2 separate regions of the Homo sapiens genome follow, and region 1 is linked to region 2. Evidence: fine-mapped QTL for protein levels in blood plasma. Region 2 holds a variant in brackets. A gene starts in the other region. All regions are shown on their reverse strands.

Region 1 (2,867 bases), not on the chromosome of region 2:
CTGCATCACCTCAACCCTGATATTATATATTTTTATTTTTATTTTTATTTTTTGAGACAGAGTTTCGCTCTGTCACCAGTCTGGAGTGCAGTGGCACGATCTCAGCTCACTGCAACCTCCGCCTCTCGGGTTCAAGCAATTCTCCTGCCTCAGCCTCCTGAGTAGCTGGGACTACAGGCGCCCGCCACCACGCCCAGCTAATTTTTGCATTTTTAGTAGAGACAGGGTTTCACCATGTTGGCCAGGATGGTCTCGATATCATGACCTCGTGATCCGCCCGCCTCGGCCTCCCAAAGTGCTGGGATTACAGGTGTAAGCCACCGCGCCCGGCCGGTATTAAACATTTTTAAAGTAAATTTATTAAATCTCAAAAGAAGCACACTTTGAATACTGAGGAAGAGACGTTGTAACCCATAAGCAGAGAGTAGGTAAGTAAAAGCAATTTCCACCACTCTCAGACTGGGCGTAGTGGCTCACGCCTGTAATCCCACCACTTTTGGGAGGCTGAGAGGGGAGGATCGCTTGAGGCCAGGAATTCAAGAGCAGCCTAAGGAAACTTAGCCAAACTCCATTTCTACAAAAGAAAAATTTTTAAAGCAATTTATTTCACCATTCTCAACGCTTTTCTCTTTTTTATTAACCAAATATTTCTGTAACTCTTTTTTTTTTTTTTTTTTTTTTTTTTGGTATTGAAAGACATGGGAGAAGGAAGAATTCCTGAATGCAACAGACTGGGAAGGACGCACCACAAAACGCTCCGCGGTCTCTGGACACCCTATCAGCTAGTCCCGTCCCTCCTGGTGTCCGGTCTCGACCATCCATCCCGTGTTTTGGGAGTGCCTTTCCTTACCAGATTCTTCTAAAGCCCTGATGCACCCACCCTTAAGTGGAAGGTAATGCTTCTGCTGGGGGCTGTGCGTTCTTCCACTCCGTCCCACCTTTGCCGTGGACTAAACAGGAGCCACTGAACGAGAGTACCCTGGCTCCCGGCCCTGCAGATTTTCACCAAAAACTCTAGGACTAAGTTAAAGTAGGGACTGAAATACCACACAGAGCTCGCTGTAAACCACCCGCTCAGCGCAGTAAGTCGGGATAGTCAGTAGATCTGAGCCCTTGAGGGAGGCGCCTCCCCCTCCTCCGCGCAGCCCCCGGGCGCCCGGCCCAGCTTCCCGCAGCCAGGGTGTATTGAGGTAGGCGCGCCCAGACCTGAGACGGGTTGGGACTGGGCTGCGTCACGCGCGGGCTCTAAGCGCCCGGGGCCCCGCCCAGTGGCCGGCACAGCCAATCGCAGCGCGGGAAGGCGGTGGGGGCGGGGAAGGCCGCCTGGAAACTTAAATCCCGAGGCGGGCGAACCTGCACCAGACCGCGGACGTCTGTAATCTCAGAGGCTTGTTTGCTGAGGGTGCCTGCGCAGCTGCGACGGCTGCTGGTGAGCGCCCCCGACCAGACCGAGGGACAGGGCGAAGGGGGACTGGAGGAGGGAACCCCCCTTTAGGGACACTGAGAGGAGGCGGGCGCTTCTGGGAGTGAGAGCTTCTGCCCGGAGCTCTGCCAGCCTCGAGGTGGGGAACGGGGGAGGGCGGTTGGAGACCCCAGGGAGGCGCCGGCACCACTGGGAGGGCCCGGGCGGGGCAGGTCAGTCATCCTGTGGGCTGAAGCCGGACCGGACCGGGCGGCTTCATGCCCCCAGCCTGGCCGCGGAGCCCCCGCTCCCTGCACCGCCGCAAACATTCTCGGGGCGCGGCGGCGCGTGCAGAGGGCGAGAGCAGGCGGTGCGGCCCCGGTCCTGGCCCGCCCGGAGCTCCGGGAGCTGCCTGCCTCGGTCCGGGCCCTGGCCCTGGGGCCCCTGGCTTCCAGCGGCGCGGCCTTGTGACCCTGCCCCGGTTTAGGGGAGCGAGTAGCACAGACCCAAGTGTGGGACGGCGGGAATAGTGGGTGCTCTCCTTCCCAGTGTCTCCTGGAAAGGGATTCCCGAAAGGTTTTATTCCAAAAGGAGAGGTTGGAAGACATAGCTCATCTCCTGCTGTGTATCAGCCAAGAAGGTGTGAGGTGGTGTTCCTTGGGGATCCGCTTGCATCTACTTGGGATGGTACGTCTTCATTAGTGAGGTTTTGCCTGGATGACCTCAGTACAATTGGTGCAAAACCTGGACCAACTCTTTCCTAGTTTTCTAGTTGTTGCCTTAAGCTTCTCACCCGTCAGGTATCTTTCACACCCTTCTCATACCCTAAATTATCGCATATGCTGTTTCAACGCCTCCAACTCTGCAGGCTGCTTTTAATTTTGGTGGGCCCATCAAATACCTCCACTTGGCCTGTTTCAGCCTCTTCCACAGTCCTTGGGGAAATGCTAGGGAGAATAATTGAAATATTTCTATTCCACGGGGGCTGTAAGATGGCTTTTTAGGATTGGTCTAATCAGATACTCATTTCTTTTCTCTTTCTAGGTTTTGAAACATGAATCTTTCGCTCGTCCTGGCTGCCTTTTGCTTGGGAATAGCCTCCGCTGTTCCAAAATTTGACCAAAATTTGGATACAAAGTGGTACCAGTGGAAGGCAACACACAGAAGATTATATGGCGCGGTTGGTAACATCTGAAACTGTCCAGAGGGACTCTGGAGAGAATGGTCCTCGCTGTTGGGAGTTGATAGCCAGAGAGTAGCTTCTAGACACCAGACCTTACCAGGCAATAACCTAACAGCACCCATTATAGGTGCAATATGGGCATATATCTCCATTGTGTCTTGGCTTGGAGAACAGCTCCCAGAGAAGTATCAACCCATCCCTGGCCATGGTTTCTCTTCCATTTCTGCCCGCAAATCGGCTTGGTGAACATGGGTTGGGTAAGTAGACATAAAGTCCACCAGC
Region 2 (2,920 bases):
AAGAAAAATCCTACCAAAGAGAAACTGCACCCCAGTCCGGGGACCTATGAGTAGTGGGTTTAAGGAATGAAGAACCGTTTTGCTCACATGAGAAATATGTGGGTCTCTTCAAAGGCAAAATGGTTTTACAGGAGGATAGCGTTCTTTGAAATCTTAACATTTACTTAGCAAACAAGGTTTACTCCTCATTGCATGTTGCAGTTCAGATTTTTTCCTGGGTTTAAGACTTAAACCAATTAGTGTGAACACATAAATCTCCATATTTTTCAACACATGTTTATTCAGTGTCTATTTTGTGTTAGTTTATTGAGTATCAATTTTATGTCAGGCACTATGTTCGACTTTTACATACTCTTTGAACATTAGTACATTCTCACTTAATCCTAATGGCACCAAGAGTTAACCCTATTTCATAGATAAGAAAACTAAGATTCAGAGAAGTTAAGGGACTCATCCATGATTAACTAGCCTGTAAGTGACAGAGCACAGACCTTGAATACAGGTCTCTTGACCCTAACCCTTACCTTTTTACCCACTTTTTATCTTTACAAAGGATTAAAAGACAAATAATGTTCTCTATTTTCTAGATGATGAAAGAAGAGAACTATAGCCTGATTTTTTATTGACTCAGAGAGACAGAAAACCCTCTCAGAATATCCTGCTCTTCTGAACTCTATCAGCTTAGAGATTCATCCTGAAGTATTCCTATTGCCAAACACATAACACACATACACAAACACACACACACAACTGAAGCTATAAAAACATCTTTACTCTTCAAAGGGGTCCCGGAAACAGCTTGAAATCAAAGATGCCAATCTTTTAACACTTTGTCCTAAGAAAATGTGGTGGGTAAAAATCATGGCAATGGGTTTCGGGTAGTGAAGTTAACAGGTGTCTCTTACTCTACATAGTAATTTCTTTGCTAGAAGTTGCATGTAAATTGATTCTTGCTTAATTCGATGTGATTTAAAATTCACTTGCAAAACTTTAATTGAAATTAGTTCTACAGCATCTTGGTTTATAAGATGAATAGTCCTTTTGTAATCTGTGCATTTACAAATTGTGATTCCTTTAAATTGTGTTATAGGAAACCTGTGACTATCTATCTGCTAGAGAGGTTGATCATTTATTTTTTCCTCTTCTTGGAAACAACTCTAACTTAAGATTGGTCAATCTCAAAACATTAAGAGATGTAAGTCTTCTAAGTCTCCATGAGGCACGTAATATAAACTCTTTTAAAAAATTCACTTGCAGTTAGGTGTAGACATTCCAAGTTCTTGGGTCTCAGTGTTCCCATCTAAAAAATTAGATTAAATATTCTTTTCATTAACTTATATTTCTGTCAAATGCTCTCACATCTCCCAGGCTCTCTAAGTCAGAGTTTCTGGATACAGAAGTATAGCATAGCCTAGAAACGATGAAGAGACTCCTTTTCACACACATGAAAAACGATAAATTCTAACTAGGAAAGAGAAATGATAATAAACAGATTACTGGAGCCGCCTGTTTGCAGAACTTTTATTATTCAGACAAGAATGTCAAGCTGCATAGAATTCACTCATCAGAGTCCTTACTGCAGACTTAAGCTGCATCCAGAGAGAGCCAAAGAGTCCACGAAAATAGCAGCCATTCAAAGATCATCTCCTTTCCTGACAAAAGCTCTCACCAAATCAGGTGCAACAACAATGTATGTCGACATAATAAAGGCCATATATGACAAGCCACACCTAG[C/T]ATCATGTTCAACAGTGCAAAGCTAGAAGCTTTTCCCCTCTAAGATCAGGACAAGACAAAGATGCCCACAGTCACCACTGGCATTCAGTGTAGTACTGGAGGTCGTAGCCAGAATAGTTACACAGGAGAAAGAAATAAAAGGCATTCAAATCAGAAAGAAAGAAGTACAGTTGTCTCTACCTGCAAAGGAGCAATAATTTGGGGGTGGTAGTGCTAATGGTGATGATGGTGATAAAACTGATGATGGCAATAGTGGTCATGGTGATGGTGATTTTGGTAGTAATAGTAGTCATGGCAATGATGATGTTGATGGTGGTGGTGGTAGTGATGATGATGGTGCTGGTAGTAGTGATAATGGTGGTGGTAATGATGATGGTGGTAGTGGTGGTGGTGATGGTGATGGTGGCTGTAATAGTTGTGGCAATGATGGTGGTGATGATGGTGGCTGTGATGGTGGGGATGGTGGTTATAATAGGTGTGACAATGGTGCCAGTGAGCATGACAGTGCTGGTGGTGGTGGTGATGGTGGTAGTAATGATGGTGATGGTGGTAGTGATGGTGGTGATGGTGATGGTAGTAGAAATAGTAGTTGTAGCAATGATGATAGTGAGCATGATGGTGGTTGTGGTAGTAACGGTGATGGTGATAGTGGTGGTGATGATGGTAGCAATAGTAATTGTGGCAATGATGCTAGTGATGTTAATAGTAGTGGTGGTGGTGGTGATGGTGATGGTGGTAGTAATAGTAGTTATGGCAGTGACGGTGGTGATGATAATGGTGGCGATGATAATGATGGTGATAGTTGTTATTGTGGTGGTGATGGCAGTGGTGATGGTAGTGGTGGAGGAAATGGCATGGAAACTGTTATTTTAATAGCCTTGGAACTAATACATACTCTCATTCACTGCCCTTGATTCAGCTTCCACTCTCCCAACACTCAACCTCTAACCAGCATCCTTCTCTTGGTGTCTCCATACAACAACCCACCTGATATAAGTCTATCTTGTCATCTCCCTTTCTCGTTATTCCTCTTTTCAAATCTAATTCTCCAAGCAGAGACCTGTCTCATCTGCTCCCACTGAGTCCAAATACTTTATTAGTGCCCCTGTATTTCTATTTCTGCCATGTGCACTATTTTTTCTTCTCCTTTTGATCTTTTGAAATGACTTCATTGATTCTACCATCT

Alleles and levels. Alleles are on the strand shown, and positions count from the first base shown. The strength of an association depends on the size of the effect and on how common the allele is.
In carriers of allele C in region 2, the plasma level of the protein whose gene starts at base 1,358 in region 1 tends to be lower than with T alone (weak association).

The links. A credible set is the group of variants that fine-mapping cannot tell apart. PIP is the posterior inclusion probability: the model's chance that the variant is causal. The UK Biobank Pharma Proteomics Project read protein levels with antibody pairs (Olink). The fine-mapping took linkage between variants from a reference panel, not from the people measured, so its PIPs are less certain.
Region 1: CTSV starts here. The variant in region 2 is the best candidate, but not a certain one, in a credible set for the plasma level of the CTSV protein (UK Biobank, PIP 0.55).

The regions. Positions count from the first base shown.
Region 1 is chr9:97,037,633-97,040,499 of GRCh38, reverse strand. CTSV (cathepsin V) reads left to right here and starts at 1,358. Exons shown (of 8, transcript NM_001333.4): 1 at 1,358-1,429; 2 at 2,447-2,582. The coding sequence starts at 2,457. RefSeq lists a silencer at 1,014-1,323.
Region 2 is chr16:79,786,090-79,789,009 of GRCh38, reverse strand. The region is part of intron 1 of LINC01229 (long intergenic non-protein coding RNA 1229); the gene reads right to left. Among named protein-coding and RNA genes, the nearest start is that of MAFTRR, 17 kb to the right of the region's middle. The variant C/T (reference allele first, on the strand shown) is at 1,735.